Linked DNA regions of Homo sapiens. The protein of the gene in region 1 interacts with the protein of each later gene in a pairwise test. Each region holds a gene or a part of one and is shown on either strand. Other genes may lie near its edges.

Region 1 (7,952 bases):
TGTAGCATAGCATTATTCTCAGTTGTGGCACAATGGTGCCTCCATTGTCGAAAGAGGTCTCCTAAACATTGTGTTTCCGTATTCATGGTAGAAAGTGCAAGTGTAAAAAGCAATAATTTGTCCTGTACTTTGGAGGGGATGTCTTAGAATGCCTTAGGACACTGGGCCCTAAAACATTGCTAATGTGGTGGTTCCTTGAAACTATTTAGAGGTTATCACTCCCCTCTGGAACACTTGTGTCTTACCAAGGCCTTCAATGAATAGTCACTTTTTGTTCATCTTGTTCAATCTGCATGATGTTATTGATACAGTGAATGAAGGTGATATTCTGCAGGATGTCCAGCTAACTTATATCTCTTCAGAGTATATTGTAATAGACGGCAGGACAGTTAACATAGCCTTGGGGTAAGGTTGTAAATTTATGGCCCATTTAAGAGCAGCCTTAGAAGCACTGTGTTCAGACCATCTCCCAAGAACCTTACTAGGGTGTTAAATCCTCTATCCTAATATGGTGTTTCCTAACCGAGAAACTTTTTTGTTCCACATCCTCGATCACACACCCTCCAAATCCAGTGCTGTGCATAATCTCTCTGCTCCTGATGGTATATGCTGGTTATTAGATTCTGTAGCTGCTCTTGGATATATTCCTTCTTTTTCAGGCCCAACATATCTGTGGCCAGATTTTACTGTTAATTAAGCCTACTTATGGATATAGGTATCAGGAGGGAAGGAGAGGGAAGAGCCTGGGAAAGCTAATGTCTTGCTAGAGAAAAGGCTTTGCATTGCCTTCAAGAAATGAGGGAATGCTAGTCATTAAGAAAAGAGTAAGTCATTTCTAAAGACCAGATCAATTAAAAGAATCGAAGGACTCATAATTTTCAGTGTCATCAACTTTATCCCATGTGTCACGGTCCCATTTCTCAACCAGAGTCCTGACCTTGGCATAGAAAATATGCATTTTTTAAGAGTTTAACCTTCTTTGGAGCTCTGCTACCTTCAGTCCTAGTCTTGGTCCTCAGCTTTCTCTCTCTTCTTATTGCAGGAACTGAGAGACTCAATGCTGCCAAAAAGTTCTTCCAGCCTTCACACTTAGCTTTTAGTTGCCAACTATCTTTTTTTTGGTCTTTTTCTAGAGCATCAATCAAACTTTGAAACTGTCATTCAATTCCTTTATTCTTATAATTAGTATTTCCTCCATATTTTTCAAATTCTTAATTACAGTGAAGGCATTCCTTTCCAGTAGTATATGATTCTAGTTCATCTTGCTGGAAGTTTAAAAAAACTGCCAGGGGCTATCTGTGCTCCACAGATATTAGTGGTTAGGTATTCATTATCTGCCCAACAGTGGGTGACCCAGCTCCAAAATCCATCCACATTGGCCTCCTTTCATCTTTCCTAGCAACAAATGTCACAGGTTGATTTCCCTGGAAAGCAGACTCTGAGATAAAAATCAGCACACTGAAGACTTAATAGACAGTGCTATTTTGGCTATTATTTCTTCCAATATTCTTTCTGTTCCATTCTTGTCTCATCTCTCCCTCTTGGACTCCAACTACATATTAGATCATTTGATATTGCCCTCCAGGTTACTAAAACTGTCATCATACTTTTTTCAATCTCTTCCTGTTCTTCACATTGGATAATTTCTAGTACTCTGCATGCAATTTCACTAATCATTTCTTCTGGAACCTATAATCTGAAGTTTAGATTACCCAGTGAGCATTTCACTCCAGACATTGCACTTTTAGCTTGAAAAGTGACATTTGGCTATGTTTTCAGTCATCTCCATCTCCCTGCTGGTATTCCCTATCTGCTCAGTCTTATGGCTACCCTTTCTTTTAAGACCTTGAATATACTTGTAACAACTTCTTTAAAGTTCTTTTTCTCTTAATCCTAACATCTAGATTGTCTTGAGGTCTATTTTTATATACTGGAGGATTCTGAACACAGCAGTGACACGCTCTAAATTTATGTTTTTGAAAAAGTGCCACTCTAATAGCCGTGTGGTAAATGGAGTATAAAAGTCTATGTAAATGAGGTAAATGGATAAATAGGGATACAAAAGTCAAATATTGGGCACAACTTATGATGAGTTACAGTTAGATGGAAGACGACAGTGGTTTTGTCTTAGGTGGTGGCACTGGTGTGAATGAGAGGAATTTGGTTCTGACCACCAGGTCTTGCTGATAGACTGGACAAGGACAGAAAGAGGAGTAAATTAAAGGATAAACCCCTGGTTATTGTACTCAGTTACTAAAACGGGGTTGCCATTTGCCTAGATATCAACAGGGGAGAGAAAATATTCGAGGACAGAAGAAAACTAAGAGTTCTGTTAGTACATTTAAATGTGAGGTATCTATTGAATATCCAAGTGGAGATGTCGAATAGGCACTTGTGTATGAGTATGGAGTGCAGAGTGAGGGCCTGGATGTTAAAAATTTGGAAGTCAAAGGTATATGGGTGATATTTAAAGCCACAGTCTTAGGATAATAGATGTGAGGACTGAGCTCTGGTATACTTGTATTTATAGAGGTTTGGGGAATGAGAGGAACATAGGAAACGAGCTTGAAGTGAGGTGGAAGGAGAAATAAGAGAGAGTGGTATCCCAAAGACAAAGTGAATATGGTTCAAAATAAAGGGAGTAATTGGTTTGTCAAATGTTGCTGTTAACTGGGAAAGGTGAGAAATAAGCCTTTGTTTTATCAGTCTATTGAGATTTTGGGGTTTGTTTCTGTAGCATATTAATGTATTAATCAATACTGTGTAATATACCTTCTTGATTTTCTTGGAATTTAGATTCTAAAAGTAAGCATTTAACATTAACTAATAAAGCTACTGAGAGTCCTATATGAGAAAATTTTGGGCATTTGGTCCATAATATGATCTTGTCAATTAGAACAGTTATTTTCTACTTGTCATTTGAATATTCATTTATGGGGTCTTACTCACTTTTTCTGGTAACATTTATAAAAATTATCTTAATAATTGTATTTCTGAGGATAATAATTTATCACTGAAATGTGCATTCACCTCCCTTTTGCAGCCCAGTGATGCAGAGGTTGATACACAGTTGATATTCAATAAATGGTAAATGTGCCCATCAAATATCTATTTTATTAATGTTATTTAACATGCTATTACCACAATGATTGCACCATTAAACTAGGTTGTCAAGGACCAATCTCAGACAGCACAATATATATGGAAGTTGATTTCCTTACTGAAGGGTCAGAAACCTAATTTAAAAACATGAAAGGGAAATGAAGTATGTTGACTCACGGCCATGAGGGCCACGGCAGAAGACTGTGTAGATGCCAAGGTCCTCGCTGAGGATGTCTGAAGTCTAGGCCAATCTCTAATCTCCAACCTACTCTGTGTTAGGAGGCTTTACAGGGTGGAAGGAACACTTTTATTAGTCCACCCAAAATAGGTAGGTACCTTTTGGTAATCAGGTCTTGAGGGGGTACACTTATTAGCACAAATCAGCATATCTGCATATAGAAGACCTTGCAATGGAGTGGTATCCGGAAAAAAATATCATTTTGGGTCTGACGGGTTCAGACAACACTTTTAAATGGGATCTCTCAAAGTGTGATGAGAACCAGAAAAAAATGGCTATTTCTAGTAGCTTCGGTACAATTGAGCAAGAAACACCAAAGGATGGTCTTTTCATAACTTTAAAGCAGTGTGGTTCTCAAGTAGGGGGTATATTTGCCCTCTGGGGAATATTTGGCAATGTCTGGAAACATTTTTGATTGCCATAACTAGAGGGAGGAGCGGTCACTAGGCATCTAGCGGGAGTAGAAGCCGGTGATGCTGCTAAATATCCTGCAAATGCACAAGATGCCCCATCCCCAAGAAAGAGAAATGTCCATTCCAGAAGTCAACAGTGTCAGTTGGGAAACCCTGCTTTAAAGGTTATTTTCTTAGAAGAGGACAGCTTTAATACCTAAAATCTAATTTTATGTTTAGGCCCATGCCTATCTTCGCAGGACTCAATTCCAAGGAAATTCTGTTCATAATGCATGCTTTCTAATTCCAGTTAATTATAGCGCCTTACAGTGTGCAGAAGGCAGAGGATTGTTTTATTTGAAAGTGATCCCTTTTACTTACTTAAAAACAGATATCCTTAGTTTCAATATAAAGTTCAGATTTTTGCTTTTAATAGTATTTATATTCCCAAATCCAAGTCCTCCCAGAAATAGGTTGAGATGAAGGGAGGCCAGATATCAAATCCATTCCTAGAGATATTGTGTTCTGTGGGACCGAAAAAAGACAAAACTTGAACCTTGACTGGCCCTCTAAGGATTAAATTCTGCTGCTCTTCTTAGGGTATCTATCGGACTGTCCCTTTGGTTGTAAGATACCACTGCCATCTCGAGGAGGACTGCATGCTTCTGCACAGAGCCAACAGGTAACTCGTCCTGGCGGCTCTGTGTACCCAACCACAACCCTAGACTGCCAAGAACACTGCTCATTCGAAGGCGAGCGAAGCCGCGAAGAGGGCCAGCGTTAGGGGAAGGGTGGTACAAACCCTTGTGTGAGCTGCAGCACCGGGGCAAGAACAACGGGCAGCCCAGGCGGGTCTTGGGTCTGCGAGACCACTAGGCGTTCTGCCGGCAGTCAGAACCGCGGCAGAAAGGGCGCGAGCGGGGAACTGCGGGAACGCAGCGGCCCGGGAAGCTGGAGGGGGCGGACCCGGCCGGCGAGCGCAGGCGCTCCCTGGCTCACGCGCGCACCCCGGCCCCACCACCCACCCTTACGCCGCGGCCCGCCCTCCGGGGCGGGTAAGAGAGCGCGCGAGCAGCGGTCGTCAGGACACGCCCCTTCGCCTCCGCGAGCTGGCGGGCGGGCTGGCATCGCCGGGAGGCGGGGCCGCGGCAGCCGGCTGGGTGCGACTGGGCGGCCTCGGAGCTCGCAGACGCTCGGGGGAACATGGCGGCTGCGGAGCCGGCGGTCCTTGCGCTCCCCAACAGCGGCGCCGGGGGCGCGGGGGCGCCGTCGGGCACAGTCCCGGTGCTCTTCTGTTTCTCAGTCTTCGCGCGACCCTCGTCGGTGCCACACGGGGCGGGCTACGAGCTGCTCATCCAGAAGTTCCTCAGCCTGTACGGCGACCAGATCGACATGCACCGCAAATTCGTGGTGCAGCTGTTCGCCGAGGAGTGGGGCCAGTACGTGGACTTGCCCAAGGGCTTCGCGGTGAGCGAGCGCTGCAAGGTGCGCCTCGTGCCGTTGCAGATCCAGGTGGGTCCTGCGGGAGGCCGCGCGCTTCCCTGTTCCCGAGTCGTCCCCGTCCCCGTCCCTGTCCCCGCCTTCGCCGCGCTCCTCAGGTGCCCCGAGCCGCCCGGGACCCGGGCCCTGCGCGAGTGGCTGAGTCCGAAGGGCTGCGCGTCTTTCGCAAGTTCCGGGGCCGGCTGGGGAATGCCCCTGTCCAAAGGTGATGGTCACCAGCTGTCCCCGGCGGGGGCGTGGGCCTCGTAGCTGGTTTCAGCGCCCGCGAACGCCCCCACGTGTGTGGTCCTCGGTCGCCCGCATCCGCTTTTTATGCCAGGATCAGGTCCCAGCCTCCTGCGTAACCAAAGGGCTGTGCTGTAGTAGCTGTTTTTATTTTGGGGTGATGGGTGATGCAGAATGGGGGGAAATGAGATTGTGGGGAGTATTGGTCTTAGGGTTTGTTCCTAGAGTTGTGTTAACCACTTGCGGAAACGCAAACTTTGGGAGTCAAACCCATTCCCCCCCGCCTTCCCAGGCTCTCAGGTCCTTGGGCTTAAGAGTTCCCTAACCTTAAGCAAATAACCATTTGCTTAGCCTCCTCTTAGTAAAGTGTCTACTGACTTGATTACGTTTTGTCGTCTGCATTGAAAAAGTCATTTGACTCCATGATTGTAATTCCTTCTTGAATACAAATACCCAACTTAAGCTAGACCTTGAGTTCCTGGGCCTGCTGGCTGGGAAAGTTGTTCTACCTGAGGACTACTTAACAGCATTTATTTTAAGCTGTGCTCTCATGCTAGGCGGGTTAATCTTCCGCCCTCTTTAGGATCAGATTGTTCACTGGCGAATTTATATTTTGGAAAGGAAAGAATATAAGGTATAATTTAGGTAGTACACTGTCGATATCATTTCTTTAGCTGAGAAACTGATAAGTCATTTTTTCAGAAGACCAAACTGAAATGTGGGATTCGGGGATAAAAGGTATTTTAATATTTAAGTGTCATTTTCTTTCTTTTTTGTTTTTAGTTTTTATGGGCACATAATAGTTGTACATATTTATAGGAGACGTGATATTTTGATTCAAGCATACAGTGTAGTGATCAAATCAGGGTAATTGGAATATCCATTACCTGAAACATTTATCATTTATTTCTTTGTTCCAAATTCATTTTTGTAGTTATTTTGAAATATACAATAAATTATTGTTAACTATAGTCACGCTATTGTGCTACTGAACACTAGAGCTTATTCCTATTATCTGTGTTTTTTGTACCCATTAACAGTGCCATTTTCTGAGGATTATTCCCTAGTTTTTTTCCGCTGTAGTTGGCAGCTGAATTGATGATGTTTCCTGTCACCCCAACACCTGTGCCAGAAGTGTCCAAAGCAGGTACTTTAGCTTCGATAAAGTTCCTGCATTCAGAGGACAAAGTCAGAGACTGCACTCTCTGCCAGTGGAGAACCTGGAACTGGATACAGTGATCTGATACCCCAGAATCTTACCTGCTGCTCAGATAGGGAATTGCAGTTCTTAGGTGCTTAAGACTCCTCATTTTTATGTCTTCAAGCGTTTTCGTGTCTGACACCTCTCTGCAGCCTTCCTTGTCAGTCCTTTTACGTTACTGCTGCCAGAATACTCAGATGTTGGATGCACCTTTGAGAAGTCCATTTATAAAGGCTAGAATCCAAATACTAACTGCGGAGGTCTGGGACTAAGGATGCAGACTTCTTTATGAAGCATTTCCTGTTACGGCTTGGAGGGAGGCTGGGCTCTTATCTAAGATAATGCTATTCTAAACTAGGCCCCAGCTCTGTAAGAGTCCCCGCCTTCCAAGATAGGATTTTTATATTTGAAAATTTCAGGGCCTTGGTCTGGCAACTCTTAAAAACATTCTAGAAATTAATGAAATGTATGTACCTGAAAACGCTTGTACATTCTCAAAAGGCGTTATATAATTCTGGTCACCTGTAGCTTTTGCAGTGTTTTGCTTGGTATAGGAGATTATGTATAGTTCACTTTTTTTTGGTGAGGTTTAAAATAACAATAGCATTACTCTACTCCCTCTTCAGAAGAAATTTTTCCGCCAACTAGTCTAATAATTCTTAAGCATTAGTTATATTTTTGCATTTATATAGCTTTATATTTTTAATTCTTTAAAAATATTTTCTCTTCTATATTATCTCATTTTAGTAGTTATACTTTGACTTCTTCAGCCTGATGCCTCTCCTAGCTTAGAGGTAGATAAAGGAAGGGGATAGATACATAAATATGCACACACTGTGTATCGTATATACCTTCTGATACCGATTTATGTCTATATGAGAAGAGAGAGATATATATACACACATACATATATATGCATATGTGTGTATAATCTCAGAAAGTCATGATATTTCTCATGACTACTGTACACTATATTCTTTGGAACCTAACAGCATAATCCTAGAGACTTGGATGTTTTATGGCTGTAAGAGACCATACAGTTCATTCCACAACATGTGAGTGGCAGCTTTAAATGCCTGGCACAGTGAATGCAAACTTGGATTCAATTCTTGTTCCTTACCTAATAAATGAACTTTCACTTTGAGGAAGTGCAGAAGAACATAGGGAGGTGGAGGTGAGTAACTTGCTGCAGGTTACATGGCAAGTCTCCGCATATGCCTGGCTAGCTCCTCCACAAATGCGTGTGGAGGAGCTAGCCAGGCATATGCAGAGCGTCACTTACAGCCGAACACAG
Region 2 (7,269 bases), on another chromosome or scaffold:
GAGGACGAGGGGGTTGTAGGCATGTGCTTGTGCAGGCCATTGCTGAGAGCCTTGGTGAGCGTGCAGGTCCTTAACAAATGCTTTACGATGCTGTGTATGTGTCTGTCTAGCCTGTGAAGCTGGTTAGAGTGGATGAATGTGTTTTTGTGACTGTTGAGGCAGAGTGTGCATACAGGTATGAGGGGATGGCAACAGAGAAAGAAACAGAAACAGAAACAGGAGGAATATAAAATCGCCTTTAGAGGTATGAGGCTTAGGGCATTTTTTACTAAGTAGATACTCAAAGGTGTACGCTCTTGACAGGAATAAAGCCTGTCCTTTGGCATAAGGTACAGTGATGGCTGCTATGAAGGGTGAAGTTCTCGGCAGTGGGAAACTTGTCCCACTTTTCCATGGCATGCACCCACCCTGGGACTAAACCCTGAGCAGAAGTGACAGGGACCCATGAGTTTGCTCCCTCCCCAACTGCCGCATTATCCAAGCCAGACTCCCACTTGAGACAACCCACTCATGGCCAGCACACCAGGAGGCACGACAGGACAGTAACTGCCCAGCATCCCCTGCCATGAGGCAGGGATGCGTCCCCTCTTTCCCTCCTCCCTCCACCAGGGTCTAAGAGCTGGAGGTCTGGGCCCTGTGTTCCAGTCACACCTCATGATAAGAACACATTTTGTGACAACAGTCATACATATCATATAAATATATTTGTTCAAACTACAAAGGGATGGATATCAGGGGGAAGCTTTTATTGCTGTGGGGGGACCTGGAGAGGGAGGGGGGCCTTGGAAATGGGGATACCTGGGACCACTTGTTCCCCCCATTCCTCACAGAAGGCACAAATACATTATTTCTTTCCATGTGAGGAGATGCGAGGAGAGGATACAGAATACAGGAATCCTCAAAAATACAAAAAACCCCTCCAAACTGAATACCTAAGGTTATGGAAAAGGCTAGGGTGGGGCACAGAAGTCAATGGGGGAACAGAAAGAGGAACCAATGAAACTGAGAACCAAAAGGGACCTGAGAGGCCATGATGTCCATGCTGCTGCCTCTGTGCAGACCCCAGAGAAAACTCAGGTAAACCAACGGAAACTCCAAATAAGAGAGGGTAGGGTGCCCCAGGAATTGGCTTTGGGGCATCAGACAAGGGAGTGTGAGTGTGAGTGTGTGTGTGCAGTGGCTGTGTATCAGAAGCAACCAGGGCTAGGAGTGGACGATTCTATTCCCACAGGGGAAGGCCTCCTCCATCCCGGTTCCTCCAAAACCACTTTCAGGGGATAAATTCAGCCACTGCTTCCGAACAGGACCCCTCCCTGGGACAAAAGAGCCAGGTAGGAGAGGATGAAGTGAGAAATCTTGGGATGAAAACAGGGCACACAGAAGCAGTTCTTAGGGAACAGAATATCATGGAGCCCAGTGTGATAGAAAATGGGCATGAAACCTAAGTGTATGCATGTGTGTGAGTGTGTGTGTGCATGAGTGTGTATTTGTGCATGTACGAGGGAGTAAGATCACTCAAAGGTGAAGGGGTCCTGGGTGCTGAAAAAGAAGTGTCCATCCATGTGGTCCTCCAGGGCATCCTTGTCACTCTCAGCAGGAAAGCGCTCCTTACAGATAGGACACTCCTTCCATGTGGGGGTGGCAGGGCCCCCAGTGCTGGTTTCTGACAGGGTACCCACTGTAAAGCCACTAAGAGAGACAGAGGGGAAAGGGAGAGGGTCGGCGTGCTCTGTTCCCTTCTTGACTTGCAGACTTCGGAGAGCAGGACCCATGTGCCTGGGTTCCCAGGTTATCCTGTGCCTAATGCAGCATCCTGGCCTCTCCCACAGCGTCTTTCTCCCCACAATCCTGGAAGGCTTATTTTTCCAGTTCCCCATGTCCTCTCTTCTTTAGTCCCTGCTGGTCTCTGCAGTGCAGAGCCCATCCCCCAGCCTCCTGCTCTCCTCCCTCCATCTCCGTCTGCTGCCTAATGAGGCTGAAAATGAGTCTGACATCGTCCTTCATCTTCCTGCTCCAGCCGAGAAGGATGACAGCATCACCCCCTCCCTGCCCTGAGCCCATCTCACATCCAGGCAAAACCGGGACTAGATGATCAAATCTCTCTTCCCTGTGCCTGCCCCCTTGAACCTGGGAATAAAAGGGAAGGCAGAAGGGGACAATCTGATACCTGAAACCCCCACCTCTATAGGTTCCCTTCCCTAAGGGTTACCCAGGGAAGTCAGGGAAGAGGGAAAGCATTTCAGTTGTAGCCAGATGGATGCTGGATCCCAGTCTTCTCTCTGCTCCTATCCCTGGGGGCCATGGTCACCTCCCTTCCTCCCCGGAGGACCCTAGGTACCTACCTGGTGGTTGGGGAAGGGGTAGAGGCAGGAGAGAGGGGAAGCAGGGCAATTTGGGCTCTGCAGAAGATGGTGCTAGAACAACATAGAAGCCAGTTAAAGGCAGGACCTCTGAGTGCATTGATAAGATAGGGGTAGGGATTACCTGAAGGCATCTGGGATTTGGAGCAGTGAGTCATTTTCCTTGTTAACCATACCTGTATCTCCTTTTCTTGGCTGAGGCCAAGAAGGGCAGGGGTTGGGAGCAGGGCCTGGTGACTGTCCACACAGATGCCCTTTCCCTCTGACCTCCTCCCACCTCCCTCCTGGCCTTGCTGGTTGAACTCACCTGGCCATGTCATAGAAGGCACTGCCCAGTTCAGGAAGCAGTAAGTTGGCCTCCTCACCCCCACTCTGCACAGCTGCCATCAGGACTGACTTCTCATCTTCAGCCTCCTGGATGCCAAAGAGACAGGGTTGGGCTTTGGGGTGGTGTCCCAAGATGGGGGAGCAGCACATTGGGACAGGTATGGGAAGAGCAGCCAAGGCTAGGACAGTGACCTGAGGGGCTTAGGAAGAGTGAGGCAGGAGAGGCGTTTTGAGGGGCTGGTGAATAATAAGAGAATGACTGTGGGGGAGAAGCAGTGAGGCTATTGGGCTGGTCTGGGTTTTGGGATGATATCTACTGGTGTGGCACTGAAGAGAGGCTGGGCCTGCCTCCTCTCCCCTGGGAAAAAGAGAGCCCTGGATAGCTAAGATTCCTTCTCTAATTAGCCGGGGGTGCCTGCCTGTGGTCCCAGCTACTCTTGGGAGACTGAGGTGGGAGGATCGCTTCAGCCCAGGAGGCAGAGGCTGCAGTGAGCCAAGATCGTGCTGCACTCCAGGCTGGGACACTTGGGTTTGGCCCTGCCCCTCCTTACTGCTTCTGCACAGGCTCCTCCACTGCTCACCGAGTCAGAGCTACTGTCCTCAGCTGGCCCAGAGAGGTGAGGAGAAATGGGAGCCGGCTGGCTGATGACAACAAGGGGAGAAGCCTCTCGAGGCCCAGCAGGAGAGGAGCCTGGGTCTCCACGCTCACAAAGGCCATAGGGTGGGAGCCTCATGTCTTCTGGGGACTCGTCCTCTGAGTCTGTCAGAGCTGCCGGGCAGCCTGTAGGAGATGAAGCAGGCAGAGAAGAAAAAAGGATGTGTTGTGAGGAGTTGGACCAGCTGTCTCCTCTGGATGAGGGGTATCATTAGACTAAACAGGGGCCAGGGTCTGGGAAAGAAAAGGCAAAACACATAGAAGGCAAAGGCAGCTCCCAGCAAGGTTACATGGAGCCTTCCTCAACAGCGGGAGGTAGAGTGGGGAAGAGGTGTTACAAGATTGGGGCTACACGGACTCAGCCCCACAGCGGCCTCCTCATCCTCTGTGGTGGCATCCTCATTCCACTTCTCATCTGCCACCTTCTCCAGGCGGGCCTCTAGCTTTCTCATGTACTCTAGCAATTCCTGGAATTGGGAAGGAAAAAGGCAGGTGCTAGAGAATGGGAAGGTGCCAACCTTGCTAGCCTGCAGAAGCTGCACCCAAGAAGAACTCTTAGCTCCTCAGCATTAGATGCCTTCAGCAAAGATTGGGGCAACTTCAGGCAGACACTCCCCCCAGCACCCCTGCTTCACCACTTACATCCCTCCCTTCTCCCAGAGATCATCCGCTGTCCTGCCAAATCAGCTAATAAGAGAAGCCAGGGTACGGGCCCTCTTGGAGAGAACAGTTTCTAAGCCAAGAGATGACAGGAATTTACAAAGTTTCTAGCCCTCAAGTCCTCACCTGTGGCATCCACGGGGCCTGGGTTATGGGTGCTCACCTGTTTCTCCTCCTGTAACTGCTCCTTTTCCTTCTGGAGCACACGCAGGGCTGACCGCAGCTCTGTCAGCTCCCGCTTACTTTCTGACAACTGTACCTGAGGGAAGAGGGCCCAATGGAATCTGGAGCCTAGAATGTACCTCCAAGAACCTGGACTCTGGGACCAGGACCAACAATCTAGAACCAGGTCTCCCCATGCCTCTGCTTCTTCCCTGCTCTGACACACACACACAGGAATTCCCAACACTTCCTCCATGAGTACTTTGTCTTGGGCCACAGATACTCAGTTTTCTAAGTCTTAGTCTCTGCCTCTCGAGTGGGGACCTGCATGACTTCCTCTAGGCTGGGGTGCAGAGGCCTTGGTCATACCAAGGGGCCACTCTATAATTCTCCTAAGTCACCTCTACTGGGCCCAGATGTGTGCCCTGAGAGCAGAAAAAAATGCACATTTCAAACCAATGAGGGCTTGCGTGTGCAAGTGAAATGCCACCCAACATGGTAGTGGACACCTAGCACTTCTGAGCCCATACCCAAGACAGAGAGAAGGGGTATGGATGCCTCAGGAGGCCATAGGACAGGACCCTTGGTGGCTGGATGCCTCACCAGGCTAGAATCCTTCTCCCGGGCCAGCTCAGTCTTGAACACTTGGTTTTGGGTCCTCTCCTCCTGAACTGCCTTCTCCAATCGAAGTATCTCTGCACTCAGCTTCAGGATCTTGTCCTTCTCTGCCTGAGAGATAGCCAAGAAGGAAAATGGGAGGGTGGAGGGGGAAGAAAAAGGAACGCCACTGTCAACAGCACCATCCCTTACTGTGTCCTTTCCTTTATTTAAAGCATCATTTTTAGAGCACTTTCCCCTTTTTGCCTTCATTTCCTATACCCTCTGAATGAAGGACAGGACATGACGGCAGGTGCTGCTTGATCAGGAATGGGCATTATGGCAGGGCCTGGGGTCTAGGACAGAAAATGTTTCTGTTCCAAGGAAGGTACTCTGGTGATCAGGATTGGGATACCCCGGTTAGGGATGGGTCATGCCTAGAAAGTAAAGTGTACCTCCCTCAAAGCCCCTCTCCACCCAAGTCCTCTAAGGTTCTCAACCCCTCTTCTCTCCTCCCAGAGGGTCTGACCACATGTAGGAGTCCCCACAGAGGTGGGGGCAGTGGCCATCAGATTGCCAGGTACCCCCCATCCCTCTACCTCCACACTCTGCAGCAGCCCTGCCCGCTCCTTGCTCCATTGGCATTTTTCTTCCTTCAAGTGCAAACCGAGCTCAGCCAGCCTGCCGTTAACTTCAGCCACTTCCAGGCGGCTGCGGTGTAGTTCGGCTATGGTGCGGTCCCTGGCTGCTGCTGCACTGGCCAACTCCTCCCCAAGAAGGGTGGCTTTCTGCTGGCTTGAGGCTGCAAGCTCCTGGGCCCCTCGAAGCTGCTCCTTCAAGGGCTCCAGCTCGGCCTCAGGAGAAAGGAGGAGATGGAGATCAGAGTTCCTAGTGAATCATTCATCAGCCAGGGAGGTAAACGCTCCCTCCACTCCACTGCATTAGGACTCGGGGTTGTGTTGTTTAGTCTTTAGCCATGTCTCTCCCCTTCTCTTTAGACACGCAGGCTTCTCTACAACTTGCCCTTGGAATTTCCCGTTTCCTGTTGCCAAGGGGCCTCACTCACCACCCGCTGCTGGGCCTGGCCTAGGGTGTCCTTCATCTGGGCCACCTTGTCTTTCAGTCGCTGAGCCTGAGCACTCTGCTCCTCTTGCCAGCTCTTCGCCTCCTTCAGGTCCAAATTTAAGTGATGGTTCTCCTGTTGTGCCACTTGGAGCTCAGCCTGAGGGAAGTGGAAAGCAGGTAAGGAAAGGGGTATGTGTGTTGGGGTGGCTCGGGAGGTGAACCATTGTGATGAGAGAGGTCAAGGTTCCACTTCTCAGATTTAACACACACTCAAGCCTTCAGCTATTGCCAGCCCTTCTTGGGTTCTCAGCTCAAATAACTCAATCCTGCATATCCAGTCTCCAGCTCCCAAATTGAGGTATCCAGCATCGCAGCCTTGGGTCTTCTGTGTAGGCATTCCATGTACCATTTCTGCTACTCTATTCTTTCTCTTAAATCAAAACTCAGTCTTCATGCCCTACAGGCCCCTTAAACTCAACAGTCTACCTCTCACCCCATCCCAGTCTTTCCTACTCTTATTTCCGTCCAGGGTACCAACTAGCTCCCACGTTACTCAGGATGGAGTAACCTGGTGCCCTTGGTGCCATGCTTGGCTCTGTCCTCTCCCTAGCGGCCCACAGAAAAACCTATTGCTTCTCCATCCTGGTCACAGCCATTTTCCCTTCTCTATTACCACCACAACCACGTTATCTCAGACTCTGGTCATTTCTTGCTTGGACTACTGAATAACTTCATAAATAGTTCATTCTCCACAAGGGAATCAGATTATTCTTCTTTAGGTACAGTTCTGATTCTTTAAATACAGTTATTTTCTTTTTTAGAGATAGGGTCTGGCTCTGTCGCCAAGACTGGAGTGAAGTAGCATGGTCACAGCTCACTGCAGCCTCCAACTCCTGGGCTTAAGCAATTGTCTCAACTCAGCCTCCCCAGTAGCTGGGATTATAGGTGTGTGCCACCACGCCTGCCTAATTTTTGTATTTTTTTGTAGAGATGAGACAGGGTCTCACTATGTTGCCCAGGCTTGTCTTGAACTCCTGAGCTCGAGGGATCCTCCTGCCTTCACCTCCCAAAATGTTGGGATTACAGGCGTGGGCCACTACACCTGGCCATAAGTACAGTACACGTCACCCCTGCTTGAAAAATCATCAAAGCCTTTCACGCTTGTGGAATAAAAATGAAGCTCAAGATCCACCACAGTCTAACCTAGGCCTTATCTCAAACACTTCACCCGCACATTCAACTGCCCTGAGTGTTCTGGCCTTTAAGCCTTTGCTCACGTCTTTCTCTGTTCCTAGAATAGCCTCACACTCATCTCTGTCTACTCATATTCTACCTATTCTCACTGCTGAGCAAAGGGTTTTTTAACAATCTTCCACATAAACCCAGGGTACTGAAGAAGGGATTTAGGAGTTCTGCAGATACTTGATTTGAATGTCTTCTAAA

Evidence for each region.
Region 2: the proteins of ISOC1 (region 1) and CALCOCO1 interact in binary tests that used the Homo sapiens proteins (3 or more experiments, as listed by UniProt).

Annotation. Positions count from the first base shown.
Region 1 is NC_000005.10:129,089,832-129,097,783, forward strand, and holds the start of ISOC1 (isochorismatase domain-containing protein 1), read left to right. Parts: upstream 1-4,917; 5' UTR 4,918-4,935; coding exon 4,936-5,244; exon of another isoform or gene 5,245-5,568; intron 5,569-6,717; exon of another isoform or gene 6,718-6,948; intron 6,949-7,856; exon of another isoform or gene 7,857-7,935; intron 7,936-7,952.
Region 2 is NC_000012.12:53,710,433-53,717,701, forward strand, and holds part of CALCOCO1 (calcium-binding and coiled-coil domain-containing protein 1), read right to left. Parts: intron 5,984-7,269; coding exon 5,828-5,983; intron 5,616-5,827; coding exon 5,361-5,615; intron 4,894-5,360; coding exon 4,768-4,893; intron 4,262-4,767; coding exon 4,166-4,261; intron 3,810-4,165; coding exon 3,701-3,809; intron 3,469-3,700; coding exon 3,269-3,468; intron 2,775-3,268; coding exon 2,668-2,774; intron 2,415-2,667; coding exon of another isoform or gene 2,343-2,414; intron 1,690-2,342; coding exon 1,512-1,689; 3' UTR 1-1,511. UniProt on the Homo sapiens protein: Functions as a coactivator for aryl hydrocarbon and nuclear receptors (NR). Recruited to promoters through its contact with the N-terminal basic helix-loop-helix-Per-Arnt-Sim (PAS) domain of transcription factors or coactivators, such as NCOA2.